Regions from separate parts of the Homo sapiens genome. Here region 1 is linked to region 2. The links come from fine-mapping of genetic effects on gene expression. A gene starts in region 2. The other region holds a variant in brackets. All regions are shown on one strand. Distances are between the middles of the regions. Region 1 has its middle 120 kb from the start of GCFC2. Region 2 holds the start of GCFC2 (GC-rich sequence DNA-binding factor 2).

Evidence for each region. PIP is the estimated chance that this variant, and not a neighbour inherited with it, causes the effect.
Region 1: its variant is the best candidate, but not a certain one, in a credible set for the expression of GCFC2 in whole blood (TOPMed, PIP 0.54).

What each region holds. Positions count from the first base shown.
Region 1 is chr2:75,821,665-75,838,063 of GRCh38, reverse strand. No RefSeq gene overlaps it. Among named protein-coding and RNA genes, the nearest start is that of GCFC2, 120 kb to the right of the region's middle. The variant G/A (reference allele first, on the strand shown) is at 8,769.
Region 2 is chr2:75,702,733-75,719,131 of GRCh38, reverse strand. It overlaps GCFC2 (GC-rich sequence DNA-binding factor 2), which reads left to right and starts at 8,217. Exons shown (of 17, transcript NM_003203.5): 1 at 8,217-8,541; 2 at 12,481-12,609. The coding sequence starts at 8,277. It overlaps LOC105374813 (a long non-coding RNA gene), which reads right to left and starts at 8,193. Exons shown (of 3, transcript XR_940260.2): 1 at 8,098-8,193. RefSeq lists an enhancer at 6,836-7,407 and a silencer at 8,386-8,685.

The DNA.
Region 1 (16,399 bases), 120 kb before region 2:
TGTGCTGCTTTTCAAAGGGAATGCCTCCAGTTTTTGCCCATTCAGTATGATGTTGGCTGTGGGTTTGTCATAAACAGCTCTTATTACTTTGAGATATGTTCCATCAATACCTAGTTTATTGACAGTTTTTAGCATGAAGGGGTGTTGAATTTCATCAAAGGCCTTTTCTGTATCTATTGAGATAATCATGTGGTTTTTGTCATTGGTTCTGTTTATGTGCTGGATTACATTTATTGATTTGTGTATGTTGAACCAGCCTTGCATCCCAGGGATGAAGCCAATTTGATCGTGGTGGGTAAGCTTTTTGATTTGCTGCTGGATTCGGTTTGCCAGTATTTTATTGAGGATTTTTGCTTTGATGTTCATCAGGGATATTGGCCTGAAATTCTCTTTTGTTGTTGTGTCTCTGCCAGGTTTTTGTTGCAGGACGATGCTGGCCTCATAAAATGAGTTAGGGAGGATTCCCTCTCTTTCTATTGTTTGGAGTACTTTCAGAAGGAATGGTACCAGCTTCTTTTTGTACCTCTGGTAGAATTTGGCTGTGAATCTGTCCGGTCCTGGGCTTTTATTTGGTTGGTAGGCTATTAATTACTGCCTCAATTTCAGACCATGTTATTGGTCTATTCAGGGATTCAACTTCTTCCTGATTTAGTCTTGGCAGGGTGTATGATATCCAGGAATTTATCCATTTTTTCTAGACTTTCCAGTTTATTTGCATAGAGGTGTTTATAGTGTTCTCTGATGGTAGTTTGTATTTCTGTGGTATCAGTGGTGGTATCCCCTTTATCATTTTTTATTTTGTCTATTTGATTCATCTCTCTTTCCTTCTTTCTTGGTCTGGCTAGTGGTCTATTTTGTTGATCTTTTCAAAAAACCAGCTCCTGGATTCATTGATTTTTTTGAAGGGTCTTTTCGTGTGTCTATCTCCCTTCATTCTGCTCTCATCTTAGTTTTTTCTTGTCTTCTGTTAGCTTTTGAGTTTGTTTGCTCTTGTTTCTCCTTTTAATTGTGATGTTAGGTTGTTGATTTTAGGTCTTTCTTGATTTCTCCTGTGGGCATTTAGTGCTATAAATTTCCCTCTAAACACTGCTCTGGCTGTGTCCCAGAGATTCTGGTACGTTGTGTCTTTGTTCTCATTGGTTTCAAAGAACTTATTTATTTCTGCCTTCATTTTGTTATTTACCCAGTAGTCATTCAGGAGCAGCTTATTCAGTTTCCATGTAGTTGTGTGGTTTTGAGTGAGTTTCTTAATCCTGGGTTCTAATTTGATTGCGTTGTTGTCTGAGACTGTTTATTATGATTTCCATTCTTTTGCATTTGCTGAGGAGTGTTTTACTTCCAATTATGTGGTTAATTTTAGAATAAGTATGATGTGATGCTGAGAAGAATGTATATTCTGTCGATTTCGGGTGGAAAGTTCTATAGATGTCTATTAGGTCCACTTGGTCCAGAGCTGAGTTCAAGTCCTAGATAGCCTTGTTAATTTTCTGTCTCATTGATCTGTCTAATATTGACAGTGGGGTGTTAAAGTCTCCCACTATTATTGTGTGGGAGTCTAAGTCTCTTTGTAGGTCTCCAAGAACTTGCTTTATGAATCTGGGGTCTCCTGTATGGGGTGCATATATATTTCAGATAGTTAGCTCTTCTTGTTGCATTGATCCCTTTACCATTATGTAATGCCCTTCTTTGTCTTTTTTGATCTTTGTTGGTTTAAAGTCTGTTTTATCAGAGACTAGGATTGCAACCCCCACTTTGTTTTGCTCTCCATTTGCTTGGTAAATATTCCTGCATCCCTTTATTTTGAGTCTATGTGTGTTTTTGCATGTGAGATGGGTCTCCTGAATACAGCACACTGATGGGTCTTGACTCTTTATCCAATTTGCCAGTCTGTGTCTTTTGACTGGGACATTTAGCCCATTTACATTTAAGGTTAATATAGTTATGCATGAATCTGATCTTGTCATTATGATGCTAGCTGATTATTTTGCTCGTTAGTTGATGCAGTTTCTTCATAGTGTCTATGGTCTTTACAGTTCGATATGTTTTTGCAGTGGCTGGTACCAGTTTTTCCTTTTGATGTTTAGTGCTTCCTTCAGGAGCTCTTCTAAGGCAGGCCTGGTGGTGACAAAATCTCTCAGCATTTGTTTTTCTGTAAAGGATTTTATTTCTCCTTTGCTTATGAAGCTTAGTTTGGCTGGATATGAAATTCTGGGTTGAAAATTCTTTTCTTTAAGAATGTTGAATATTGGCCCCCACTCTCTTCTGGCTTGTAGGGTTTCTGCTGAGAGATCCACTGTTAATTTGATCTAGGTTACCCCTTGTGGGTAACCCAGCATTTCTCTCTGGCTGCCCTTAACATTTTTTCCTTCATTTCAACCTTGGTGAATCTGATGATTATGTATCTTGGGGTTGCTCTTCTCCAGGAGTATCTTTGTGGTGTTCTCTGTATTTCCTGAATTTGAATATTGGCCTGTCTTGCTAGGTTGGGGAAATTCTCCTGGATAATATCCTGAAGTGTGTTTTCCAATTTGGTTTCAATCTCCCCATCACTTTCAGGTACACCAAACAGACATAGGTTTGGTCTTTTCACATGGTACCGTATTTTTTGGAGGCTTTGTTCATTTCTTTTCATTTTGTTTTCTCTAATCTTGTCTTCACGCTTTATTTCATTAAGTTGATCTTCAATCTCTGATATCCTTTCTTCCACTTGATCAAGTTGGCTATTGATACTTGTATATGCTTTACAAAGTTCTTGTGCTGTGTTTTTCAGCTCCACTGGATCATGTATATTCTTCTCTAAACTGGTTATTCTAGTTAGCAATTCGTCTAACCTTTTTTCAAGGTTTTTAGCTTTCTTGCATTGGGTTAGAACATGCTCCTTTAGCTCAGAGAAGTTTGTTATTATCCAACTTCTGTCAATTCATCAAACTCATTTTAAATCCAGTTTTGTTCCCTTGCTAGTGAAGAGTTGTGTTCCTTTGGATGAGAGGAAGTTTTCTGGTTTTTGGCATTTTCAGCCTTTTTGTATTGGTTCTTCCTCATCTTTGTGGATTTATCTACCTTTGGCCTTTATGTTCGTGAGCTTCAGATGGAGTTTCTGTGTGGATGTCCTTTTGGTTGATGTTGATGCTATTCTTTTCTGTTAGTTTTCCTTGTAACAGTCAGGCCCCTCTGCTACAGGTCTGCTGGAGTTTGCGGGGGGTCCACTCCAGATGCTGTTTGCTTGTATCACCAGCAGAGGCTGCAGAACAGCAAAGATTGCTGCCTATTCCTTCCTCTGGAAGCTTCAACCAAGAGGGGCACCTGCCAGATGCCACCTAGAGCTCTCCTGTATGAGATGTCTGTTGACTCCTGCTGGGAGGTGTCTCCCAGTCAGGAGGCACAGGGGTCAGGGACCGACTCAAGGAGGCATTCTGTCCCTTAGCAGAGCTTGAGCACTGTGCTGGGAGATCCATTGCTTTCTTCAGAGCCGGCAGGCAGGAACGTTTAAGTCTGCTGAAGCTGCGCCCATAGCCACCCCTTCCCCCAGGTGCTCTGTCCCAGGGAGATGGGAGTGTTATCTATAAGCCCCTGATTGGAGCTGCTGTCTTTCTTTCAGAGATGCCTTGCCCAAGAGGAGGAATCTAGAGAGGTATTTCAGCTACAGTGGCTTTCCCAAGCTGCGGTGAGCTCCAACCAGTTTGAACTTCCTGGCAGCTTTGTTCACACTGTGAGGGGAAAACCGCCTACTCAAGCCTCAGTAATGGTGGACGCCCCTCCCCTCAACAAGCCGGAGTGTCCCACGTTGACTTCAGACTGCTGTGCTGGCAGTGAGAATTTCAAGCCAGTGGATCTTAGCTTGCTGGGCTCTGTGGGGCTGGGAGCCACTGAGCTAGACCACTTGGCTTCCTGGCTTCAGCCTCCTTTCCAGGGGAGTGAACAGTTCTGTCTTGCTGGCATTCCAGGCGCCACTGGGGTATGAAAAAGAACTCCTGCAGCTAGCTTGGTGTCTGCCCAAGCGGCCACCCAGTTTTGTGCTTGAAACCCAGGGCCCTGGCGGTCTAGGCATCAGAGGGAATCTCCTGGTCTGCGTGTTGCAAAGACCGTGGGAAAAGCATAGTATCTGGGCTGGAGTGCACCGTTCCTCACCAAATGATCATTTTCACAATAACAACAAAATATAAAATGCATGGAATCATGGATGTTGTAAGCTGGCTCATTCTGCACCTCTTTCTACCCTCTTCTAATTTTCTTTCTTCTACTAGATAGGCCAATAGCCTTAAACTACATGTTCCAGCCTCTGTTGAAGGTAAAATTTGATATATTGCCTGGTTTCCACCAAGCAGAAGCATCAGCATGAAACTTAGGAAAAAAAATAAGTAGCTACAGGCAGGAAAGCCAGATCTTCTGGCAAGTTTCATGGCTGAGGAGTTTTATTCCTCCAGGGCATGTGTAGCAGGGTTTCAGGCATCCAGAATGTGTCAGAGGTGCTGAGCAGTAACACATCAGCAGCTAGTTTTGCTAGAATAGTCTCATATTGTGGTTAGGCAGTTTCCCCCGGCTGCTTTGTTTTTGGCTTTCTGGCATCTAAGCCTGGTTCTCCAACTTTCCCAAGGTTTCTGTGAGATACTCAGCTTTTTGGCGGGGGGCAGGGGTGTCTTCTTTCTGCTGGCACTAGCTAGAGGATTATTTGTCTGTAAGTAAGAGCCCTGACCAATACACTCAGGAATACACTTACCAATAAACATGTTGGATCCATATATAAAACTTTACTGAGGTTTACAACAGTGGAGAATTTAATAAATGAAAACTGCATTACATTTCTATTTCTGCCTAGCAAATTACCACTAACTTAATAACTTAAAACAACATCCATTTACTAACTCACAGTTCTGTGAGTCAGAAGTCCAGGCATGACACGACTGGGTTCGTGTCATTAGCTCAGGATCTCACAAGACCAAAATCAAAATCAAGGTGTTACAAGGATGTGCTCTCCTCTGGATCTCAAATCTGGTTCTCTTCCAAGATGATTTAGATTGATGGCAGAATTCAGTTCCTTGCTGACTGTCAGTTAGGGATTGCTCTCAGCTCCAACCAGCGACTCCCTGGTTTTTACTTGCATAGACCCTTCCCATCTTCAAAGTTATTAACGGAGAATCTCACTTGCATGAAATTCCCGTTACACTTTAAATCTCTTTTGCAATGAGGTCCAAGGCCCTTTTAAGGGCTCTCTTGGTTAGGTACAGCCCACTTGGAAAGTCTCACTTTTGACTAACTCAAAAATCAACTAATTAGTGACCTAATCATGGGAGTGATATCCCATAGTAGTCACAGTTCTTGCCCACACTCAATGCACTACCTATCACAGAAGCCATATCATGGGAGCCTTAATAATCCTAAATTATTTCATAAGGGTAATACAAATCCTACCAGAATGTTTATGTAGAACTTTAAAACATATTAATTTTCAAATTTAAAAAGTCACCAGGCAGAAGCAAGTGATCAATTTTGAAAAATAAAAAAAAAAGTAATGGATTTTGCAAAATCAGATTCAGATTATATTTATATGTTTTATTTAAATTTTCAATTGCAAAGACATTATAATTGAGAGTTTTGCACTAAATTAAGAATAGAAAGAACAGATCATTGGAACAGGAATAGAACAATAGAAAGAATAGAAAGAGCAGAAACAGACTCAAATATTTATAGATGATTACATATAATGAAGGATTTATGTCTAATTAGCAAGAGAAGAATAGATTATTCAATAAATGTTGTTGGTAAATCTGCTCAAATATTTGTGTAAAAATAATTATATGCATACTTTATACTATACACTAAAATAAATTCCAGCTGGATTATAAATATAATTCAAAAAATACAACTAAAAAAAAAGAAGGAACATAGATGAGTATCTCATTTGTCAGTAAAAGAGAGAAAAAATATAGAAAAGTAAATATTTCACCACAAATAAGACCTTTTTTGGCCCCCAAATCATCACTTAAAAAGCAAATGACAAAAGGAGAAAAAAGTCTCAAGTCTGATGCCTTACTAGTTCTTTAAAAGCAATACGAGAAAAGCAAAACACCACAATGGAAAATATAAACAATGGACAAAAATAGGCAACTTATTTTAGAAAAAACTTAAATTGCCAACAAGCTTTTTAAAAATGCTCAGTGTATTAGTCTGTTTTCAAGCTGTTGATAAAGATATACCCAAGTCTGGGCCGTTTACAAAAGAAAGAGGTTTAGTGGACTCACAGTTCCACATCAATGGGAAAGCCTCACAATCATGCTGGAAGGCAAAAGGCTCATTTCACATGGTAGCAGACAAGAGAAGAGTGATAGCCAAGTGAAAGGGTTTTCCCCTTATAAAACCATCAGATCTCATGAGACTTAGGCACTACCACGAGAACAGTATGGGAGAAAACGCGTCATGATTCAATTACCTCTCACTGGGTCCCTCCCACAACATGAGGGAATTATGGGAGCTATAATTCATTCAAGATGAGATTTGTGTGGGGACACAGCCAATATATATATATATATTTTTTTGCCTTGCAAAATGCAGTGTTTTTGATATATATTACCTCATGTTGGTAAGGAGGTCCAGAAACTAACCCTTTTGTTGACAGCCCATGAACACACAAGCTGGTGATATTTTGTGAAAAGCAATTTGGTATCACCAAAGGCTTTAAAATGTGTGTACTCTATGTCTTAGAAATTCTGCTTATAATCATTTGTATTTTATGTTTGTTTATTTAGCAAACATTTATATAATGTGTACTATATGAATGTCCTAGGCTGCATTCTAAGAACTTAGCAAATATTTACTTATTCAATCCTCACAACATCCTGATGAGGTAGGTACTATTAGTGTCATTATCCCCATTTTACAAATAAGGTAATTAAGGCAGAGACAAAGTTAAGATACTCACCCAAGGTTGTTGCACAGCCACTAAGGGATAGAGCCCAGGCAGCCTGCTCCACAGCCCATGCTCCTAAACTCTGTGCTATTCAGCCTCTCATGTAATTTATGGAGTTAATAATGAATGTTCCCAAAAGCTGTTCCACAAGAATTATCCCATCAGCACTCAAACTATCTTGATAAAGCCCTCTTCCCAATATCTTCCTTCAGCTACTACCAAATTTCTCTGCTCCCTCAAAGGACAACTTCTTGAAAAAGTTGTCTGCACACATTGTCTTCTCTTCTTACCTCCCACTTCAGCCAACTCTAATCTCACTTTCACACCCACTACGTTACTGACAAGGTCTTCAAAGTCACCAGTGACCTCCTGTTGCAAAACCCACTAGGCACTTTAAGGTCTACCGTTTTTTGACATCTCAGCAACATTCTACAAAGTTGGCCCCTCCAACTTTCTTGCTATATTTTCCTTTCTGGCTTCCATGACAGCATATCCTCCTCATTTCCTTCCTACTATTCTGGAAACTTCCTCATCATGTTTCCTGGGAACTCCTCCTTTAACCCACCTTTCTCCCTGCACTCTCTCCCTTGACAGTTTGAACCAGTCTCTTGTTTTAAATGTCATTTATGTGGTAACAACTTCCAAATTTATTCTTCCATCACAACCTCACCTCTGAGCTCCAGATTCATTTGTTCAACTACGTGTTTGGCATCTCCACCTGGCTATGTCATAAGCCTATCAAAGCTAACTTGTCAAAAACCAAATTCCTGAATTTACTCCCCAACCAAACCCTGCCACTCATTCCCCCTTTAAATATCTTGTCTCCACTACTGAATGCACTACAATAAATGGCACCAATACCTATCCAATTGTTCAAGGCAGAAGACTTGGAGTTAGTTCAATCCTCTACTCATACCCTCCATTCAGCCACAATATTCTGATCAGTAATCTCCAAATCTTTATGAATCATTCATTCATTTTGCTTCATCTTCCCTGCCACCCCTCTCGCCTAAACCACCGTCATATCTCTACTGGACTACTGAAATAACTTCTTATTTTCTTTGCTGCCACACTTAGCACCAACGATATAGTCTCTCCATAACAACTGAAGTGATATTTTAAAAACAAGTCAGGTAATGTCACTCCCTTGCCTAAAACATCAGTGTCTTCCTCTTGCACAAACAAATCCAATGCAAACTTCTTAATATTGCCTACTATGCCCTGCAGGATCTAACTCTTGCCTACCTCAACAATTTTGTCTCTCATCTCGGTGCCCACTCCCACTCTCTCATAACCCTCCTCAGACATGACAAACTGTCTTTCATTTTGTGTTGGCTGTTCCCTTCACAGGCTCCTGCCCCAGCTCTTTATCTGATTGGCTCCTTCTCACTCTTAACTTCTTAACTTGTATGTCACCTCTCAGAACAACCTTCCCAGAGCCCCCCAATTTAATAACTCAATAATTTTCTTCCAAGTTATTGTCTTCATGGCATTTCCTCAATTTCTAATTACCTGTTACAATAAACAGACTGACCTCTTTTTTTTGTTTTTTGTTTGTTTGTTTGTTTTTTGTTGTTGTTTTTTTTTTTAAGACGGAGTCTCGCTCTGTCACCCAGCCTGGAGTGCAGCAGCGCGATCTCGGCTCACTGCAAGCTCATCCTCCTGGGTTCACGCCATTCTCCTGCCTCAGCCTCCTGAGTAGCTGGGACTACAAGCGCTCGCCACCACACCTGGCTAATTTTTTTTGTATTTTTAGTAGAGACGGGGTTTCACCATGTTAGCCAGGATGGTCTCGATTTCCTGACCTCATGATCCGCCCGCCTTGGCCTCCCAAAGTGCCGGGATTGCAGGCTTGAGCCACCGC[G/A]CCCGGCCTGCTGACACCTTTTTTGATGTAAAACTGTTGACAGCTTTTGAATCCCTGTTCCACTTTCCTGTCTGCCCAATCCTTGCTGCTAGCAGCAGTCCAAACCTCACAAGGCCCCACCCTACGGCCACTATAATGGCCCAGTCCACTTTTTCCACTTCGCTTAAGCCATCTGGATTAATTTACACCTGCCCTGCTCTCTCGGGAGAGCCTCATGATGTGAGTAATAAACCTATTCATACCTTCTTGGTGCATGCAGCATCATCAGTCTCACCATCATGACTAATTTAGGTAGGGGTTAATCCTGTTCTCCTTGGGGCAACCACAAAATACCTAAGCCTGTTGATTTACTTGTTTATAATTTGTATCTCCCACTACACTAACTTGCCTAAGGTTAGGAACCAAGTCTGTTTGTATTCAGCCATGTATGAGGCTTGACATATACTAAACGCTCATTAAATATTTGGAAATTGATCAAATGAGGTGCATTAAACCACTGCTAATAATGATAAAAAATAAAAAAACTGGAGAAAGAGATAACTTATTAACAATAGGAGATTGATTAAATAAATTACTTAGATAAACTGAATGAGTATAAATTATATTGAAAAGAATACTTAACGGCTTTGAAAAAAATTTTGCCGTGCATTAGTGAAAAGAGCAGTTTACAGAAATAATAATAATAGGGTAATCTTATTTTTCCAAAATGTGTGTGTATATTAATGGACAGTGAAATTATTGAAAGAATATACTCTAAAATACCAATAGGATTGTCTGTAGGCAGGTGATTTTATTTCATTTTTTAACTTTCATTTTAGGTTCAGGGGCATATGCACAGTTTTGTTATATAGGTAAATTGCTTGTAATGGGGGTTTGGTGTACAGATAAGTTTGTTACCCAGGGAATAAGCATAGTACCTGATAGGTATTTTTTCTGCTTCTCTGCTTCCTTTCACCCTCCACCCTCAAGTAGACCCCAGTATCTGTTGTTCCCCTCCTAGTATCCGTGTGCTCTTGCTGTTTAGCTCCCACTTATAAGTGAGAACATGCAGTATTTGGTTTTCTGTTCTTGTCTTAGCTTAGGATAATGGTATCTAGCTCTATCCATGTTGCTGCAAAGGACATGATCTCATTCTTTTTATGACTGATAGTACTCCATGGTGTACATGTACCACATTTTCTTTATCCAGTCTAACATTGATGGGCATTTAGGTTTATTCCATGTCTTTCTGCTTGTGAATAGTGCTGCAGTGAACATATGCATGCATGTGTCTTTATGGCAGAATGATTCATATGGTCCATTGGGTATATACCCTATAATGGGATTGCTGGGTCAAATGGTAATTCTGTTTTAAGTTCTTTGAGGAATCACCACACTGCTTTCCACAGTGGCTGAACTAATTTATATTTCCATCAGCAGTGTATAACTGTTCCTTTTTCTCTGCAATCTCTCCAGCATCTGATTTTTTGGTTTTGCTTTGTTTTGTTTTGTTTTTTAAGAGCCCTGGTGTGAGATTATATCCCATTGTGATTTTAATTTGCATTTCTCTAATGATCAGTGATGTTGAGGGGTTTTTTCACATAATTGCGGCCGCATGTATGTCTTCTTTTGCAAATTGTCTGTTCCTTTCCTTTGTTCATTTTTTAGTGTGTTTTTCCTTTCTTGTAAATCTGTTGAAGTTCCTTATAGATGCTGCACATTAGACCTTTGTCAGATGCATAGTTTGCATGTATTTTCTCCTATTCTGTAGATTGTTTACTCTATTGATAGTTTCTTTTGCTGTGCAGAAGCTCTTTAGTTTAATTAGGTCCCACTTGTGAATTTTTGCTTTTGTTGCAACTGCCTTTGGTGTCTTTATCATGAAATCTTTGCCAAGTCCTATGTCCAGAAGGATGTTTCCTGGGTTATCTTCCAGGATTTTTATAGTTTTAGAGCTTACATTTTTATAGTTTTAGAGCTTACATTTATATAGTTTTAGAGCTTACATTTATATAGTTTTAGAGCTTACATTTAAGTATTTGATCTATCTTGAGTTGATTTTTGTATGTTGTGTTAGGTAGGGGTCCAGTTTCAGTCTTCTGCCTACGGCTAGCCAGTTATCCCAGCACCATTTATTGAATAAAGAGTCCTGTCTCCATTGCTTGTGTTTGTCAACTTTGTCAAATATGAGATGGTTGTAGGTGTGCAGCCTTCCTTCTGGGCTCTCTATTCTGTCCCACTGGTCTATGTTTCTGTTATTGTACCAGTACCATGCTGTTTTTGTTTACTATAACCCTGTAGTATAGTTTGAATTAGGATAATGTGATGCCTCCAACTTTGTTCTTTTCGCTCAGGAGTGCCTTGGCTATTTGGGATCTTTCTAGTTTCGTATGAATTTTTAAATTTTTTATCTAATTATGTAAGGAATATCATTGGCAGTTTGATAGAAATAGCATTGAATCTATAAATTGCTTTGGGCAGTATAGTCATTTTAATGATATTCATTCTTCCCATCCATAAGCATAAAATGTTTTCTATTTGTTTGTGTCATCGCTGATGTCTCTGAGTAGTATTTCGTAATTCTCATTGTAGAGGTCTTTCAAATCCTTAATGGGCTATATATCTAGGTATTTTATTCTTTTTTTGCCAACTGTGAATGAAATTGCATTCCTGATTTGGCTCTCGGCTTGGATGTTGTTGGTATATAGAAATGCTACTGATTTTTGTACATTGATTTTGTATCCCGAAACTTTGCTAAAGTTGTTATCAGATCAGGAGCTTTCGGCCAAGGACTACCGGGTTTTCTAGAAATAGAATCATGTCCTCAGAAAACAGGGATAATTTGACTTCCTCTCTTCTTATTTGGATGTCTTTTATTTCTTTCTCTTGTCTGATTGCTCTTGCCAGAACTTCCAATACTATGTTAACTATGAATGGTGAGAGCAGGCATCCCTGTCTTGTGCTGGTTTTCAAGGGAAATGCTTCCAGCTTTTGCCCATTCAATCTGATGTTAGCTGTGGTTTTGTCATAAATGGCTCATTATTTTGATATTTATTCCTTCAGTGCCTAGTTTACTAAGGGTTTTTAACATACAGGGATATTGAATTTTATCAAAAGCCTTTTCTACGTCTACTGAGATAATAAAGTGGCTTTTATTTTTAGTACTGTTCATGTGATGAATCACGTTTACTGGTTTGTGTATGTTAAACCAACCTTGCATTGCAAGGATAAAGCCTACTGGATCATGATGGATTAGCTTTTTGATGTCCTGCTGAATTCAGTTTGCTAGTATTTTCTTGAGGATATTTGCATCTATGTTTGTCAAGGGTATTGGCCTGAAGTTTTGGTTTGTTGTGTTGTTTCTGCCAGGTTTTGGAATCAGGATGATGTTGGCCTCACAGAATGAGTTGGGAAGGAGTCGTCTTTATACATCTGGTAAATTTCAACTGTGAATCCATCCAGTCCTAGGCTTTTGGGGGGTTGTGGGCTTTTTATTACTTTTGTATCTTATTATTGGTCTGTTCAGGGATTCAATTTCTTCCTGGTTCAGTCTTGGGAGGTTGTATGCATCCAGGAATTTATTCATTTCTTCTAGAACTTCTAGTTTGTGAGCATAGAGGTGTTCATAATAGTCTCTGAGGTTTTTTGTATTTCTGCAGTGTCAGTGGTGATGTCCCCTTTGTCATTTCCAGATGTGTTTATTTGGATTCTCTTTTTTCTGTATTAGCCTAGCTAGTGATCTATCTATCTTATTGATTCTTTAAAATAACTAACTCTTGGATTCATTGAGCTTTTGCATGGTTTTTTGTGACTCAATTTCCTTCAGTTAAGCTCTGATTTTGGTTATTTATTCTCTTTTGCTAGCTTTGGGGTTTCTTTGCTTTTGCTTCTCTAGTTCTTCTAGTTGTGATATTAGGTTGTTCATTTGAGATCTTCCTAACTTTTTGATGTGGGCCATAAGCTTGCCTCTTAACACTCCCTTAGTTATTTCTCAGAGATTCTGGTATGTTGTATCTTTATTTTCATTAGTTTCAAAGTATTTCTTGATTTCTGTCTTAATTTCATTGTTTACCCAAAAGTCATTCAGGAGGAGGTTGTTTAATTTTCATGTAATTGTATGATTTTGAGTGATTTTCTTAGTCTTGATTTCTATTTTTATTGTGCTATGGTCCAAGAGTGTGGTTGATATAATTTCAGTTTTCTTGAATTTGCTGAATGTTGTTTCATATCTGATTGGGTGTTTCATACTCTGATTGGAGTAGGGTCTATGTGGCAATAAGACAAATGTATATTCTGTTGTTTTGGGGTGGAGAGGGTCCATTTGGCTAAGTGTTGAGTTCAGGTACTGAATATCTTTGTTAATTTTCTGACTCCATGATCTGTGTAATACTGTCAATAGAATGTTGAATGTTCCCACTATTTTTATGTGGGAGACTAAGTCTTTGTAGATCTCTAAAAGCATACTTTTTGAATCTGAGTGCTGCTGTGTTGGCCGCATATATATTTAGGATAGTTAAGTCTTCTTATTGAATTGAACCCTTTACCATTATATAATGCTCTTCCTTATCTTCTTTGATCTTTGTCAACTTAAAGTCCATTTTGCCTGAAATTAGGATTGCAGCCTCTGCATTTTTCTGTTTTCCATTTGCTTGGTAGATTTTTCTCCATGTCTTTATTCTGAGCCTATGGATGTCATGGCACATGAGATGGGTCTCTTGAAGACAGCATACCATTAGGTCTTGCTTCTTTATCCAACTTGCCCCTCTGTGCCTTTTACTTGGGGTGTTCAAGCCCATTTACATTCAAGGTTAGTATTGATGTGAGCAAATTTGATTCTATCATCATGTAGTTAGCTGGTTACTATGCTGACTTGTTCTTGTGGTTGCTTTATAGTATCACTGATCTATATACTTAGGTGTGTTACTATAGTGGCTGGTAATGATCTTTCCTTTCCTTACGTAGTGCTCCTTTCAGGACCTCTTGTAAGGCAGGTCTGGTGGTAATGAATTCCCTCAGCATTTGCTTGTCTGAAAAGGATCTTATTTCTCCTTCACCTATGAAACTTAGTCTGGCTGGATGTGAAACTCTTGGTTGAAATTTTTTTTAAAAAATGCTGAATATAGGTTCCCAATCTATTCTGGCTTGTAGGTTTTCTGCTGAAAGGCCCACTGTTAGCCTGACAGGGCTCCCTTTGTAGGTGATCTGCCCCTCTTCTCTAGCAGCCTTTAACATTTTCTTTCATTTCAACCTTGGAGAATCTGATTATGTTTCTTGGAAATGGTCTTCTTGTGAAATATCTTGCAGGGATTCTCTGCATTTCCTAGATTTGACTGTTGACCTCTCTGGCTAGCTTGGGGAAATTTTCATGGATGATATCTTGAAATACGTTTTCCAGATTGCTTGTTTTCTCTCTGTCCCTTTCAGGGATACCAGTGAGTCAAAGATTTAGTCTCTTTACATAATCCCATATTTCATGGAGGTTTTGTTCATTCTTTTTATATACTTTTTTCTTTATTTTTTGTCTGACTGAGTTATTTCAGAGATCCAGTCTTTAAGCTCTGAGATTCTTTCCTCAGCTTGGTCTATTCTGCTGTTAACACTTGGGATTGCATTACGCAATTCTTTTTGTATGTTTTTAGCTCTATCAAATCAGTTTTTTATATATATTTTACATATATATTATATAGATATATTTTATATATCTATATAATATATATATTTTATATATCTATATAATATATATATTTTATATATCTATATAATATATATATTTTATATATCTATATAATATATATATTTTATATATCTATATAATATATATATTTTATATATCTATATAATATATATTTTATATATCTATATAATATATATATTTTATATACATATATATTTTTATATACATATATAATATATATTTTATATACATGTATATAATATATATTTTTATATACATATATAAATATATATTTAATATACATGTATATAAAATAAATATTTTATATACATATATAAAATAAATATTTTATATACGTATATAAAATAAATATATATTTTATATACGTATATAAAATATTTATTTTATATATGTAAATATACATTTTTATATACGTATATAAAATATATATATTTATATACATATATATATAATATATATATATATAATGGTTATTTTGTTCTATCAGCTCCTGTGTTATTTTATTGTGATTCTAAGCTTCCTTGGATTGGGTTTCAACATTCTCCTGAATCTTGATGATTTTCATTGCTATCCATATTCTGAATACTAGTTCTGTCATTTCAGCCATCTCAACCTGGTTAAGAACCCTTTCTTGGTAACAAGTGCAGTCATTTGGAGGGAAGAAGGCACTCTGGCTTTTTGCATTGCCAGAGTTCTTATGCTGATTCATTCCCATTTGTGTGGGCTCATCTTCCTTCAAAGCTTGAAGTTGCTGTCCTTTAGATGCAATTTTTCTTTTTTGCTTTTTTTTCTTTGGTGCCCTTGGGGGTTTGGTTATGGTATAAGGTCAATTCAATTAACTGGCTTTGATTCTAGTCCACTCCTGGGTCTTGGAGGAGCCCCCTCTGATTACTTCTCTGTCCCCATGGGTATTTTGTTGGGTATTCTGGTTCATGCAGCTCCCTCAAGCAGGGGCCACAGTTGGCAGACAAATCACATCCTTGTCAGGTCGTGTGCTTCCTGGGGAAACACAGGGTTGTGCCTGCCTCAGAGTTTATGCAGAAACTCAACCACTGGGTTGGAAACTTTAGCGGCTGTGATTCATCTGGCTTTGGAAGGTGGAGGTGGGTGGAGTTGCCTGCTCTGCCCTCCAGGTCTTTCCAGAGCAACAGGAGGCTGTGCCTTTTAGCAAATTCTGGCAGAAGTAGTGCTGCTGAGCCAGAAGCTCTAACAGGTGTGGCTCATCTAGCTACCAGTGGTGGGAGTGGGTAGAGATGCCCACCCTGCCATCAAGTGCTTCCTTGGATGACAGGAGGCTGTGCCCACTGGCGGAGTTTCCATAGAACCAGGACCCCTGGGCTAGAAACTCTAGCACGCATTGCTCTCCTGGCTGCAAGTGGTGGGGGTGTGGGGGTGTCACATACCCTGCCATCTGGGTGTTTCCTGGGAAAACATGAAGCTACACCTTCCAGCTGAGTTCCCACAGAAGCAGGGCCACTGGGCCAGAAGCTCTAGCAGTTGTTTCCTACCTGGCTATCAGTGACAGCAGTGGGTGGGATCTCTGTCTGTGCACTTCTTGGGAAAACATGAGGCTGTGCCCACTGGCTGAATTCACACAGAAGCAGAGCCACTGAGCCAGCAGCTCTAGGAGGTGTTGCCCTTCTGGCTATCAGTGGTGGGGGTGGATAGGGTCATGCACCCTGCTGTTCACCTGTTTCTAAGATATCATGAGGCTACGCCTTTCTGCTGAGGTCGCACAAAAGAAGGGCTACTGGGTTGGAGGCTCCAGTAAGTGTTGCCCACCTGGTTACCAGTGGCAGGGGTGAGTGGAGTGGCCAGCCAAGTTTGGGCCAAAGCAGGACCATTGCATCACGAGCTGGTGCCAAGCCCCATCTGGCAAGAATGAGTAGAGCAATCTTATTGCTTCTAGGAACAGCAACTATGGCCTCTACTAGGGCTATGGTGCCACTGTTGATCT
Region 2 (16,399 bases):
GAGGCTGAGACAGGAGAATCGCTTGAACCCTGGGAGGCAGAGGTTGCAGTGAGCTGAGATCATGCCACTGCACTCCAGCCTGGGCAACAGAGCAAGACTCCATCTGAAAAAAAAAAAAAACAACCAAATGTCAACGATATTAGGATAGATAAGCTGTGGCATATCTATACAGTGGACTGTTACGCAGCAATAATAGTAGACTACAGTTACACAGAAGAACAATGTGGAATTATAATACAAACACATATTAAGCCAAAAAAAGCCAAGCACAAAACAATACAGATGGTATGATCTCAAAAGTTCAAAAACAGACAAAGCTACATCATAGTGTTTGAGTATGTGTGCTTGCAGTAAAACTGTATTTTTAAAAAAGCAAGGAAGTGATTACTGTAAAAGTCAGAACAATGATTACTTCTGGGGACAGGGAGGGTGAAATGATTGAAAAGGGGAACAAAAGAGAGTGCTGGGATGCTAGCAATCTTCTATTTCTCGACTTTGTTGGTGGCTGTGGAGGGATTTGCTTTATGATAAGTTCTTGAACTGTACATGTTTGTTTTGTGCATTTTTCTGGATGTGTGTTACATTTCATATTGAGTGAAAGGTTTTTCATTCAGTACCTCAAATGAGAAACCCTAGTGGAGGCACTGAAAAGAAGCCTGGATTTGTTAGAAAGCTGATTGGTTGGAATAGAAGGAAAACTCTAGAATTTTTCCTAGATCTCAAAGGCAAGGGATTTAAAATGAAGAAAGGCACTCATAACCACCCTCTAAACTGACCTTTTTTGACATTGTTCCTCTTAATGCCTATAAATTGCCATGTATTTTGACCTTAACTTGATCTCCATTGCATGAATAGCTTGTGGTTGGTTAGCACAGCATGATTTATTTCACATGACTCCTTTCACCTTGACCTCCTTACAAGACCTAACTGAAAATCACCCATGCCATCTTAGTTATTGTGAGTAGTGCTGCAGTGAACACTGGAGTGCAATTATCTTTTAGAGGTCCTGATTTCAATTCTGTTGACTAAATGCCCAGAAATGAGACTGCTGGATCACATGGTAGTTCTACTTTTAATTTTTTGAGGAATCTTCATATTGTTTTCCATAGTAGCAGTACTGTTTTGTCAAGTGAAGGATGAACAGATGAAGGAAATGTGTTGTATAGAGAGAAGGGAATATTATTCATCCTTAAAAAATAAAGAAATCCTGCAATATGCAACAACATGAATTAACCTTGAGGACATTATGCTAAGTGAAATAAGCCACCAAGAAGGAAAAACACTGTGTGTTTCCACTTACATGGGGTATCTAAAATATTCAGACTCATAAAATCAGAGAGTAGAATTGTGGTTTCTGTGGGCTGGGGAAAGAGGAAAACGACAAATCACTAATCAACTGGTATAAAGTATCAATTGTACAAGATAAGTAAGTTCTGGAGACCTACTGTACAACATTGTCCTTATAGTTGGCAATGTTGTATCTTACACTTGAAAATGTGTTAAGAGGATAGACCTCACATTAAGTGTTCTTACCACAGTAAAACACATTTTTTTCAAAAATCGCCCAGCTGGCCGGGCGCGGTGGCTCACGCCTGTAATCCCAGCACTTTGGGAGGCTGAGGCGGGTGGATCACAAGGTCAGGAGATCGAGATCATCCTGGCTAACAAGGTGAAACCCCGTCTCTACTAAAAATACAAAAAATTAGCCGGGCGCAGTGGCGGGCGCCTGTGGTCCCAGCTACTCGGGAGGCTGAGGCAGGAGAATGGCGTGAACCTGGGAGGCGGAGCTTGCAGTGAGCCGAGATTGCGCCAGTGCAGTCCGGCCTGGGCAACAGAGCGAGACTCCGTCTCAAAACAAAAACAAAAACAAAATCGCCCAGCCTAGGTCCTAAAACTCTGTAAATACCCTGCCTTATTCTTTCATTTTCAGATACTTATAAGATTCTGTCAAGGTGGTGTTCTCTCTTACTGTAGTTAATCTTATAAACTTGACTTTGGTTGATCAATAGGTTTTTCTGATGGTCCTTGGGGTATCTGACAGTTAATCAATAGATTAGTTCAGGCACATAAGAGTGACAGCTCAAAGACCTCTATTCATTATGAAAATTAGGACCTAAAATTGAGAAAATTCTCAATACTTGGGATTACAGGATATCATAAAGTATTTCCAATAAACCAGATCCTAGGGCTAATGTGGGTTCCTCACACCTGACCTTTGGAACAGGACCCCATGTGTTTCATGACCTTCTGGTCCCAGCGCAGGGCCCCTATCATAGTAAGTGCTTAAAAAAATAGATGCTGAAAAAATGAAAGCACAGTTAGTTTCATATTTGTATGAATGTGTTTCCATAGTAATTTTTTAATTAAAAAAATGACTTATAAACATGACTTCATAAAATTTTGTCCTCTTAGAAAGTTTTAAAGAGCCTGGCTTAAAAGGAAAATATATTCATTACTCAGCTCTATAGGAGGCAATTTCCATGAGATTATTTGATACAATCCGTTTATAAGAAGCGCATTTCTCACTAGAGGGAGCTCAGAATCCACCATTAAATGGCAAGACACGCTGGATAAAATGTCACTTCACTTTAGGGAGAAAAGTCTGTTTGGGTAAATATGACATTGATTTCCAGAAGTTGGGAATTTTTAATATGCCAATTTTTCCCATTGTTAACCTCTGCAATTCTAAATGACATAAAAGGGAAATAATACAAACTCTCATAATGATCAGCCAATTACTTAATAAGCTAATATTGTAAATAAACACAGTAGGGCAAATAAAAAGATATGGCATTATCTCTACCTGCTTGATGAAGGATGGTGGTAAAAATCCTAGTATTCATGAAAATGAGAAATTACATAAGGCAGTGGTAAATATGAGTATCGGGAAAAGCTGTTTGGAGAAATATAGTTTTGCTCTTTGCCCTTTTCCTGTGCCCATAGGTAACTCCGTGGAGCATCTTCTACTTTAAAGTTGCACCTTCTTGGGTACATTTGGGTACATTTGGGGAAAGGGGCTATCTCACAGCCACTCCTAAGCCAGCGTGTTCAGTAGCCTGCTTCTCTCCTATCATCCACTCCATCTCCTTTGACACCCTCAGCTCAGAATCGTGGAGCCACCAGCTTTTCCTCATCCACCACCTGACCTCAGCTGCCAACTCTTTCAATCTCAACAGCAATGTTAAGATTGGATTTGGAGGCTGGGCACGGTGGCTCATGCCTGTAACCCCAGCACTTTTGGAGGCTGAGGCAGGCGGATCACCTGAGGTCAGCAGTTTGAGACCATCCTGGCCAACATGGCAAAACCCTGTCTCTACTTAAAATACAAAAATTAGCAGGGCGTGATGGCGGACATCTGTAATCCCAGCTACTCAGGAGGCTGAAGCAGGAGAATCGCTTGAACACAGGAGGCGGAGGTAGCAGTGAGCTGAGATCGCGCTACTGCACTCCAGCCTGGGCAACAAAGCGAGACTCCGTCTGAAAAAAAAAAAAAAAAAAAAAAAAAAGATTGTATTTGGAGCAAAGTTTTACTAAATCCTTGGAAGAAAACTGCACTGTATCTAAAAAGCACTTCATCCGATTCTCCCATGTAACTGGGAACTTCTCACTGACCCTCATTTCTCTCAGATTCCAGACTACAACCATCCCCCACCCTCCACCTCAGATTCTGAAGTTTTTCTCTACCCTTTGAAATTCTTCACACTTCTCTTTACCCTAGAGTTCCAAAATCTACCATGCATGTATGTCCCAAATATTATATAGGACCTATTTATACTAAAAAGCTACTCCTGTTTTATCTGAATTTCAAGTTTTACCAGGTATTCTATATTTTTTCTAAATCTGGCAACTATCCCTCAGAGTCATCGCTCTGCTTTCCCTGGGGACAGAGGAGAAAACTCAGGATTCCTCCCCCTTTATTAAATAAGTTATCTTTATTTCATCCTCTCCCACCAAGGCAACACCCAGAGAAAATAATTTTTCTCACTTCTTTCCCTTAGAACAAATGTTTGATTTCTGTTTTAAATAGCAGAGTTTTTTCTATCTCCATCATATATCACCTATCTCTTAACATGTTTGCATTTAACAAGTTAGAGTGACTTGTTTTCCAGTTTTATTTTCGTGAGTGAACACAGATGTTTCAGAATTGCCTCATCCAACCATTTAGTTCATTGTGTTCATGTCAGTTGTGCACTAAACACTAAACTAGGTATAGGATATCAAAATGAGTAAAAGAAGGGCTCTGTCTGGGGAGGCAGTGTCTTTTAAAATGGGAAAGTAAACAATGAGTCCACATTAGCAGATGGCTCTGAACTCAGCCGAGAACAGTAAACTCTGCCTAGCGTTTTCACATTTTGGTTTAACATCGTTTGTGAGTTAGTGACTTTTGAAGGGAAAGAACAGCCTTCTAGAACACCAACATCACACTTAGATTGTCCTTAAATAAACTGCTGCCTTTTAAGCAACACTGGGAGTGAATTCTGTCCTGCTGACCCCCTTTCCAATTGCAACAAACACCTAAAATGACTTTGGAAGCTGGCAGAGAACCCTTTTTGAGGAGGTGCAGACAGATATCCCCTTATGGTGAACAACTTCTACACTTAAATAACCTTACTCACTTTGAATAGATTCTTATTAGTTTTCCTTTTGGGGGGCTATTTAGGTTTCTAAATTTTGAGGTACCTAACATTTACATGCTGTTACAATCTGATATGAAGTTCATCAATGATTAAGTTATTTAGACTATTTTTTAAGACTTCTTTTTTTTTTTTGGAGATGGAGTCTCACTCTGTCACCAGGCTGGAGTACAGTGGTGCGGTCTCGGCTCACTGCAACCTCCGCCTCCTGGGTTCAAGTGATTCTTCTGCTTCAGCCTCCCAAGTAGCTGGGATTACAGGCATGCACCACCACGCCCGGCTAATTTTTGTATTTTTAGTAGAGATGGGGTTTCACCATGTTGGTCATGCTGGTCTTGAACTCCTGACCTCGTGATCTGCCCACCTCGGCCTCCCAAAGTGCTGGGATTACTGGCGTGAGCCACTGCGCCCAGCCTTCTTAAGGGTGATTAATACTTAGTATCTGCTCTAGGACCTTGCTATTTAGAGTGATCCTCAGACAAGTATCCTCGCCTTCACCTGGGAGCTTGCTAGAAATGAAGACTCTTGGTTCCTACACATAGCAGCTCAATCAGTATCTATATGTCCACACTATTTCCATGTGCTTTGAAGAACATTAGATTTGATAAGCATTAGTCTAGGGCTTAGCATGGTGCCTGTGCTAGTAGGTGTATAATAAACACTGATTGAATTGTACGATATATTAATATGTTTCCTTAAGAGTGCATAACAGAACACTGAATTTCTCTCCAATTACAATCACGATCATCTTCCTCATTCTCCTCACTGTTTCAAAATGCTAGTCTTAGCTGGGCATTGGGGTATGCGCGTGTAGTCCCAGATCCTCAGGAGGCTAAGGTGGGAGGATCACTAAGCCCAGTAGGTCAAGGCTGAAGTGAGCTGTATTTGCACCATCGCACTGGGTGGCAGAGCGAGACTCTGTCCATAAAATTAACTAAACTAAAAATTATAGTCTCCTGTTTGGTTTAGCATTAACTACTTTATAGTGTAATTTGGAAAGATGTCCTCCTCTGCTAAGGGAGTACAGAGCAGTATCCATGGCAGAACTTGGGAATTCTGCATGGAAAGATGGCATCTGAAAAGCACTGGACCGAACGGAACCCACTTCTCCATCTCCAATCTTTAAAGTTTATTCTAACTACAAGGAGCACTTGGTCCATGATAGGAAGCTGTTCTTTCAGATGCCACAAGTATCTCTATTCTCCAGAAATATCTTTTTCACACCATTTGCCAATTTTCCAAAAGAAACACACAAAAAAACAAGTAGTTCTCTAATTTTACCTGGATTTAAAAAGAGAAGCCTCTCTTTATAATAAGACATTAATAACTTGTGAATAACTGATAATACTGTATCATATAATTTCCCAAATTTACATCAAGGAGTTTCAGTTTATTGAGAAAAGCCAAGAAAAAAAGACAAAGCCAAGAAAAAAAAATTCCGGGGCTAGGTCAATCAGAGAAACTTTGCCTCTTCTCGATTCCTTTGGTGACATATAGTCAGTGATACAATGGTAAATGTTTAATGACTGGATATCTGGGAGAAACACCTGGACTTCTAAGGTCTTCCAATTTATATGGTATAAGTAGTCCCTTTATGGCTGATTTCAAGGTGCCAATATTGTGTCCGGAATTGGTGGGTTCTTGGTCTCACTGATTTCAAGAATGAAGCTGCGGACCCTCGCGGTGAGCGTTACAGCTCTTAAGGTGGCGCGTCTGGGGTCTGCCCCTTCTGATGTTCAGATGTGTTTGGAGTTTCTTCCTTCTGGTGGGTTTGTGGTCTCGCTGGGCTCAGGAATGAAGCTGCAGATCTTCACGGTGAGTGTTACAGCTCATAAAAGCCACGTGGACCCAAAGAGTCAGCAGTAGCAAGATTTATTGCAAAGAGCGAAAGAACAAAGCTTCCACACTGTGGAAGGGGACCGGAGCGGGTTGCCACTGCTGGCTGGGGCAGCCTGCTTTTATTCTCTTATCTGGCCCCACCCACATCCTGCTGATTGGTAGAGCCCAGCGGCCTGTTTTGACAGGGCCGTGATTGGTGCGTTTACAATCCCTGAGCTAGATACAAAAGTTCTCCACATCCCCATCAGATTAGTTAGATACAGAGTTTCCACACACAGGTTCTCCAAGGCCTCACCAGAGCAGCTAGATAGAATGTCTATTGGTGCACTCACAAACCTTGAGCTAAACACAGGGTGCTGATTGGTGGGTTTACAAACCTTGAGCTAGATACAGAGTGCCGATTGGTGTTTTTACAATCCCTGAGCTAGACATAAAGGTTCTCCAAGGCCCCACCAGAGCAGCTAGATACAGAGTGTCGATTGGTGCACTCATAAACCTTGAGCTAAACACAGGGTGCTGATTGGTGTGTTTACAAACCTTGAGCCAGATACAGAGTGCTGATTGGTGTATTTACAATCCCTGAGCTAGACATAAAGACTCTCTATGTCCCCACCAGACTCAGGAGCCCAACTGGCTTCACCTAGTGGATCCCGCACCGGGGCTGCAGGTGGAGCTGCCTGCCAGTCCGGCGCCGTGCGCTCGTACTCCTCAGCCCTTGGGTGGTCGATGGGACTGGGCGCCGTGGAGCAGGGGGTGGTGCTCGTCGGGGATGCTCGGGCAGCACAGGAGCCCATGGAGTGGATGGGAGGCTCAGGCATGGCGGGCTGCAGGTCCCGAGCCCTGCACCGCGGGAAGGCAGCTAAGGCCCGGCGAGAAATCGAGCACAGCGCCGGTGGGCCGGCACTGCTAGGGGACCCAGTACACCCTCTGTAGCCGCTGGCCCGGGTGCCAAGTCCCTCACTGCCCGGGGCTGGCAGGGCCGGCCGGCTGCTCCGAGTGCAGGCCCGCCAAGCCCATGCCCACCCGGAACTCCAGCTGGCCCGCTGTCACCTCTCAATATGACGCCACTAAACATGGAGTTGATAACAGGTGTGCAGTAGCTCAACATTATATAGTATTTCTACCATACAGATACAGTAGTAGACAGAGCTTGATGAATATAGAACAAATTTGCGTCAGACAATAGCTTTTTGTTTTTAGATAGTTTCTTTAAGGGTGAAAACATTTAACCAGGCTCTCTTGAAGCCCTGCTGCCTGGGGGAAGTCATTTGATTTTTGCTAGTCTGTATGCATTGTTTATGTACAGACTTTATGGTTTTGTTCTCAAAGGCATCTCCTCCTACCCCGAGCCTCACACTGCTGGGGTTTCGTTTGTTTTAAATCTTGGTTGGAGGGGGCACTCTCTCCAGAAAGTAAAAGACAACGGATCTGGCTCCAGTCCAGGACGGAAAGCATAACGCTTGATTTCTGGATGGGGTTTGCACAAGGACAGCACGTGAGTTCTGCTCTCCGTGGGACTCAGACCGGATAGGCCGTGAAAATCTCTAAGGTGTCAGTCCACGCAACCTAACCTGGCAAAGGGAATGCTTTGCAAACTCAGGCCCCAGAACAGAACTCGGCCTACCAGATCCAGGGAGCCAAAGCACGCAGGCGCAGACAGAGTAGCGGTGAGCAGAAGGCAGGCGGGACGGGCGCGCGCACTCGGCGGCCAGGCGCGGCGGGAGCGCGCCCTAGGGGGCGGGCACTGAAGCTGCGGCTTGCGGTTCAGCGGGTTCTAGGGCGCCGGGCGCTCGGGCCTCGGCCATGGCTCACAGGCCGAAAAGGACTTTTCGGCAGCGCGCGGCTGATTCCAGCGACAGCGATGGCGCCGAGGAGTCGCCTGCTGAGCCTGGGGCGCCGAGGGAACTTCCGGTCCCGGGTTCTGCGGAGGAAGAGCCGCCCTCTGGAGGAGGCCGCGCGCAGGTGGCGGGACTGCCCCACCGGGTTCGGGGCCCTCGTGGCCGGGGCCGGGTCTGGGCGAGCTCCCGGCGTGCCACCAAAGCGGCTCCCCGCGCGGACGAAGGCTCAGGTGTCCAGGGAGACGCGGGGAAGCGGGGAGGTGACGGCACAGGGCGGGAAGGGGCCGCGGGGTCTCTGGATCCTTCTCTGGGGGTTCTATAACTTGCTGCCGACCACAAGCCATGCTGAGTCTTATCCAGAAAGACTTATCCAGAAGGTAGTGAGCGAGAAAATAGCTCGAGCACTTGCCCGCTATCTGCATCTGCCTTTTGGACTCCTTGGGGGAAATAAAACAATCGTGTACAGTTGGGAGGCTCTTCGTTTTCACCATCAGTTGACTCCATCAGTTATAACTAACACAGTTATCAAAGTTTATGAAGAACCTAAACTGTCACAACAAAGTTCAATAATTTATAATACTATTAAGTGGGCAGAAGTTATATGTACCTTTTAGACACTTGACCAACTTATCTTTCTTGAAAACATTTAGCCAGAGTAGTACAGGAATCTAGGTTTTGGGACATTCCCCTTTGTTTATTTTCTTTTTTCACCAGTTATTTGCAAAAACTAATAGTAATATATACAACACAAAGAAGCATGATAGAGATTCATGACACTGTAGATGGTACCAGTAATGGTGTTAGATATAGTGTCGTCATTTTGAAGTACCTTTGAGTTCTTAAATACAGGTGTAAGGCAGCATAAAGTTGTTTAAATAAAATGTGCTGCTCTGAGTTGGAATTGTAGCTTAATGAGGAATACGGTTTTTGGTTAGTCTTGAGAGCTAAAATCTTCCTATTATTTTTTATTGTCATTAAAGTGATTTTTATTAATTTATTGAGAAGTAAAAAATGTATATACTTATAGTGTACAACATGATGTTTGAAATGTGTCTACAGTGACTAAATGGAGCTAATTAACATTTGCTTTACCTTAGGTACTTACTTTTTTTTGTGGTGAGAACACTTACTATCTACTCTTACTAATTTTCAAGTATGCAATGCATTGTTATTAATTTTAGTCACCGTGTTGTAGAATAGAATTCCTCTTGTCTAATTAAAATGTGTGCCCTTTGACCAGTATCTTCCCAACTACCCTCAACCTCACTCAGTCCCTTCTAACCACTACTCGACTCTCTGCTTCTGTGATTTCTGATTTCCACTTTTTTAGATTACATATGTGAGATCATGTGGTGTTTGTCTCTCTGTGCCTGTCTTATTTCATGTAACATAATGTCCTCCAGGTTTATGATCTTCGTGATTTCTTGGTCTTTCTTGTGACCTTCTATTTGTCTAAAGTTTTCATGACCTTTTATATTTGTTTTCTGGTTAAACTTTGTAGATGAAAGTTGAAGTCAGGAGTTCCTTTTCTCTTGCCTTCTAGAATAGTGGTTCTCAAACTCTTTGGGAATTGGACCTCTTTTAGACTCTTAGAAATGATTAAGGATTCCAAAGAGCTTTTGTTTCAGTAGGTTATACCTATCAATATTTATCACACTAAAAATAAAATTTATTAATTCACTTACAAAAAATCTATTACATGTAAGGATAAGTAAGATTTTTGTGAAAAGTATTACCCCAAAAAAGGAAGAGTAGCATTGTTTTCAATTTACAGATCTCTTTAATGTCTGGCAAAATATTAATAGAAGACAGATGAATTGTCATAGGTGTTTCTGCTTTTAATCTCTTGTGCTATTTTGTTTTGGTTGAAGTATTTGAAGAAAATACAGCCTCTGACAGATACATGATTAAGACGAGTACTTAATAGCATTTTTAGATCATTGAGGGTGTTGTGCTTTAATATAACACAGCTCAACAAGTAATAAACTAACCCTTCTTAAAAGTTAGTTGCGGGCCGGGCACAGTGGCTCACACCTGTAATCCCAGCACTTTAGGAGGCCGAGGCAGGTGTATCAAGAGATCAGGAGTTCGAGCCCAGCCTGGCCAACATGGTGAAACCCCATCTCTACTAAAAATACAAAAATTAGCCAGGCATGGTGGTGGGTGCCTGTAATCCCAGCTACTCAGGAGGCTGAGGCAGAGAATCACTTGAACCCGGGAGGCAGAGGTTGCAGTGAGCTGAGATTGTGCCACTACACTCTAGCCTGGGTGACAGAGTGAGACTTTATCTCAAAAAAAAAAAAAAAAAAAAAAAAAAAAGTTGCCAAATGGATTCTTAAACCATATGATTAAATTTGGGGTGCTCTTACCTTAAAACTCTGTTCTGTTTTGTACTTTGGATCTTTTACTCATGAACGATTGGTAACATCTTGCATTATTTGGAAGGTATTCATTAGCTGAGTTTGCAGATCTTGCAAATGTTGGAGCATTTTATTGTACAATACCAAAAAAATCATAGTATTACCACTGATTAATCAGTCTGTAAGTACTGGAAAGCTGTTAGGTTCACAGTAGAGAATATAAGTTTTCCAAAATCTCAATTTTCACTTGAAATCTCTCATTTTATTGATAGGCACAACCGGGCTCATGTTTTGAGAAAATGTTTGTCAGATAGCCATGTCTGAATAATCGGTTTGTTAGTCATTCTTTCAAGTAAAATGGTGATGCTTCTTAAAAACAACGTCTAGTTCAGCTTGCAACTCAGTCACACAAATGCTTTTCCTTAAGGCAGCCATTGCATTTCAAGATGCAGCAAAAGTGCCTTATGAATACTTTGATTTTGTCACAAAGAATATTAAACATGTGTACTCAAGGGTCAAAATTTAATAAAATAACAATTTTTTAATTAGTTCATGAAGAGCAACTGGCTTTTTTCTGCCATGTGAGGTAAGGAAAAATACCATAACTGCTACTACAAATTGATTCATTCATGCCAAGAGCCTAGCAGTTTTACCCATCACTGCCTTTACTTCATTATATAAATATCAACATGGTAAAAAGAACAAATAACATGTTATTATTGTGATGAAAGTAGTTTTAATTTCACAGACTCTCTGAAAGAGTCTCAAGGACCTCCAGGGATTGATAAACCATGCTTTAAGACCCACTGCTTTGGTGTTAATCCACTTTGGAAACAGGTATGGGTTGTCATAAATGACAATATCTAAGAAAGATGTGAGCTGCAGCTATATTTTTTTTAGTGTTTTAAATTTTGATTTTACTCCAGCCTTTTTTGAACTGTATGTAGGTCTTCTAACTAAGGTAGAAAATTAAAATTAATGAGTAGTATGTAATCTTATGTTTTAAGGTTACTCATAAAGATTGCAAATTTATTGTGGATTAAGAAATCCTTTCTTGTCAATAATGTCAAGAATTCCTTTATTTTGTTCATTCAATTTTCACAACACCCCTGTGGGTTTTATCTTGGTGTTATCTTTGTTTAACAGATTAATTGAATTTAACAGACTATTTACCTTCCCAAATCATGCATTGAAAAGATGGACCCATGGTTTAATATTGACCAAAGTGCTCGTTACAATATTTCTCGCCACCAGCCGTTGAAATATGGCATACTATAAAGAGAGCCTAAGTTCTGAAGTTGCCTGGGATTAGGTTGACAGCCCTGCTTCTCCACTGCCCGAGTTGGTGTTCTTTATCCTCTCAATCCTTAGTGAACTCATCAGAAATTGCATTTACTTTATAGAATTACAGGTATTAAATAAGTCATGTAAAACAGGTTTCAGTGTGCCTAGTACATAGTATACATTAAATATTTTTCTTTTCTACTTATTCACAATCATTACTATTCTAAATATTACTTCATTTTTTGTCGCTTTTTTTTTCTCTAATGCCTCCTTCCCTTTTCTCATTGCATACTTTTGGAAATATATTATTAGATGCCTAGATAATACAAATAGGGTCTTTGTACACTTAGTAGATCATTCAGTTGCTTAAGAAAGAAAGTTGGAGGAAGATCAATATGTCTACTTTAATATATGGACTAGGATTAAAACACCGTATTATACATATGCCATGTGTTGTTCAGAATTTCAATTAATAATTCCATTATTTTGACTCTTTTTTGTTGTATTTTTAAAATGTCCTGTTAGAATCCAGAACCCTTGATGTGTCCACAGATGAAGAGGATAAAATACATCACTCCTCAGAAAGTAAGGATGATCAGGGTTTGTCTTCTGACAGTTCTAGCTCTCTTGGAGAAAAAGAACTTTCATCAACAGGTTAGTAATTTGTATGATTTTGGTTAAGAATTTTATTTTTAATATAGTGTTTTTGATATAGTTATTAATGACATAACAAACTCTAGTGACATGGGGCAAGTAGGTCATTAATGATGATTGTCAGAGTGCCAAAATTGCTCATTTTTATTACATTTTAACATGCACAGGTCAGACAGCTTATAAGTAGCAGGGCTAGGATTCAAACCCAGTTTGTTCTGGAGCCTGTATTCTTCTTAATCACTGTGCTATACTGGGTGATTGACATTGATACTTGAAGGATGGTAAGAATTTGTCAGGGAGGATGTTTCAGGTATAGGATGTAGCATATCTGAAACTCTAGGGAAGGTATGTAATATGTGCAGGAAGCTAAAAATAGCTCTGGCTGAAAGTATTTGGTTGCGAGTTTAAGGAAAAGAAAACAGGAAGGACAAGTTGGAGTCAGATTATACAGGGCTTAGGGAACCACTGAAAATTTTATACAGATGACATGAATGTTTTTGTGTCTTAGAAAGATCAGTCTAGTTCAGGGGTTGGCAAATCTGGCCCACCACCTGTTTTTGTAAACAAAGTTTTATTAAAACACAATCACAGTCTTTCAGTTACTTAATATTTGTGGGTGCTTTTGCACTGCAGCAGCAGAGTTGAGAAGTTGCCACAAAGACCCTATGGCCCGCAAAGTGAAAAATATTTATCTGGCGTCTTACAGAGGTTTATAACTTGTTTTGTGCCGTGGACTCCTTTTTCAGTCTAGTGAAGCCTAAGATCCCTTCTGAGAAAATAAAGTAAAATACATAGCTTTGTAGAGGAAACAAATTATATTGAAATAAAATTATTAAAATATATTTTATGACGCTTGTAATATAGTAATAAGTGCTTCTGTGCTTCTTTTTTTTTTTTTTTTTTTTTGAGATGGAGTCTCACTCTGTCGCCCAGGCTGGAGTGCAGTGGCGCAATCTGGGTTCACTGCAAGCTCCGCCTCCCAGGTTCACGTCATTCTCCTGCCTTAGCCTCTTGAGTAGCTAGGACTATAGGCCACCACGCCTGGCTAATTTTTTGTATTTTTAGTAGAGATGGGGTTTCACCGTGTTAGCCAAGATGGTCTCGATCTCCTGACCTCTTGATCTGCCCACCTCGGACTCTCAAAGTGCTGGGATTACAGACGTGAGCCACCACGCCCGGCCATAAGTGCTTCTTTATTAGCCTATTAAATAACAACAACCAGTAGCTCTGTAACCTTGTAATTTTGTTTCTTCTCCATGTCCACAAGGTACAGAAATACTAAGCGATTAAGCCAATATTAAGAACTGAAATCTAGTAAACAGTTGAAGCCTTGTCTGGATTCTAGATACAGTGCTATTCAGTAAAATTTTCTGTGGTTTGGAAAAATTTTCTATCTTCACTGTCCATATGGTAGCCACTAGTCACAAGTGGCTGTTGAGCTCTTGAAATGTGGCTATAGCGAGACTGAGAAATTGAATTTTTAGTTATATTTGAATACTCACATAGGGCTAGTGGCTACTGTACCAAACAATGCTACTATAAAAGATGGCGGATTAGACTAGGTGCCATGGCTCATGTCTGCAGTTTGGGAGGCCGAGGTGGATGGATCACCTGAGGTCAGGAGTTTGAGACCAACCTGGCCAAAATGGTGAAACCCTGGCTTTACTAAAAATGTAAAAATTAGCCAGGCATGGTGGCATGCACCTGTAATTCAGGGGACTGAGGCAAAAGAATTGCTTGAACCTGGGAGGCAGAGGTTGCAGTGAGCAGAGATCATGCCAGTGCACTCCAGCCTGGGCAACAGAGCAAGACTCCATCTCAAAACCAAACAAACAAAAAAAGATGGTGGATTAAACAGGATAAGGCAGTGGTTGTAAAGTGTTGGCAGCACTGCCCCCACCTTAGGAGAGAGGGCAGCGTTTGAAAATGTGTGGGATTATTTAAATGATTATAGTAGTTGAGTTGTTGCTGGCACATAGTGCCCTAGAGGCAAGGGATGATAAATGTCTTAACAGGAGTGCAGAACAGTTCAGCGCAGTGAATTGCCCATCCCCTATGCACATTGAGAAACGCTGATTAAAAATTGAAAACTTGTCCTGTGAGGAACACCTGAAAGTTCGAAGGACTTATTGGCTGGCGAAGAAAAGATGGAGGAATGTGTTAATTTTAAGGGCTGGCATGTGGAAGAAGAGCATTTATTTGTGTTCCGATGAATAACTGCCTCAAAATAGTCCCTCTAGCAGAGATTACTTGTTACTAATAGAAGATGATAATTTACCTCTCAGCCCTAGATGATTGCATATCAGATAGGATGATATATGTGAAGAATTATTCATAAGTTATAAATTTGTAAAAACATGATGTATTTATTATTGAACAATATGCTGACATTATTGATTCCTCCTATGTCTGCCCAGCATCTGCTGTGTGAGAACCCTTGAACGAGGTATTGAATATGCAGAAACAGGACAAACGCAATACTCTTCTCTTCCTTGGTTTTTTACTTCTTTATTTTTACTTGAGCAGTTACCTTTATGTAGCACTAATATCTTACTAGTGTGTCCCATTGCTTGTGACTTACTAATTAAACCCTACCGAGTCACCTGCAAGAAAATCACTTCCAAAATAAGTATTTCTGTGTCCACATTCATACACTTGAGTATTTGAACCTAAATGTCTTATCTTAATCCTGCCTGCACATTAAAATCCTCTAGGGAGCTATAAAAACATACTTCTGCTCAGCTCTGCCTCAGATCAACATCTGAATCACTGGTATAGAGGCCTGGGTATGTCAAGCTTCTCAGGTGACTCTGATGTGTAGCCAGGGTCGAGAATTGCTACTATAACCTGCTGTGATGGTTTTGAATCTTAAATGCTTTGGGAGGAGGAAGAGACACCTGACCTTCATCATGTCCCTGACAGTAGTCTATAAATAATTACTAATCTATAAAAAAGCAAATCACTTCATTTTCTATTACTTGTTCTTGATGAATATTTATTGACTTCTAGTGATTTCTTTATTGCTTCATGATTCACTCAAGGACTTTTAATTTTCCCTAGGGCTGATGTCAAGCATATTGGTCTGTGATTTCTAAAATCTTTCTCTTTTTTTGTTTGTTTCAAACATGGGAGCTTTTGTGCATCTCCAAGTACATGGCATTTTTCTGTTTATTTCTCAAAGAATTTGGGTCAACTTGTGGGAAAGTTTAGAAAATTTCACTTCAGCCTCAGTAGCTTGACATCTTTTTAGTAGTTTGAAGTGCTTAAAATGGTGAAAATTTCTCTCGCTGTTTCTTTAATGTAGTATTTTTCTTAAGAAACCGTTTTTTCCAGAATGAAGATAAATTTCAGCTTAGATCATGCATGAAGAAACTCGTTTTAAATTGGAAGAGTTTATGCTAATGATATTTATGCTGTACAAAATAAAGAAAAAAAATAAGACTCTCTTAAGAGTTGTTGTCATTTAAAATTTTTCACCTGGTAAATGAGCCTGATTATTTTCTTTACACTTCTTAATGTCTCATGTTTATTCACGTGGGGCTCACTACAGAACCGCAGAGGCTAATTTGGCTTTGCTCTGTTACTGTTTGTAGTATGTTTGTGATTTCTTGTAAGTGTGGGTAGGAGGGAAGGAGGAAGGAGGACATCATAGTGTAGTATCTCTCTTACTTGGTAAGTCAGGCTGGTCTGTCATTGATCCTTCTAACTTCTGTAGCTCTCACTGATTGGGGAACACCACACTCAGCCCTCTCCACATCCCTGCGCTGACAATCTCAGAGCTTCCAGAAAT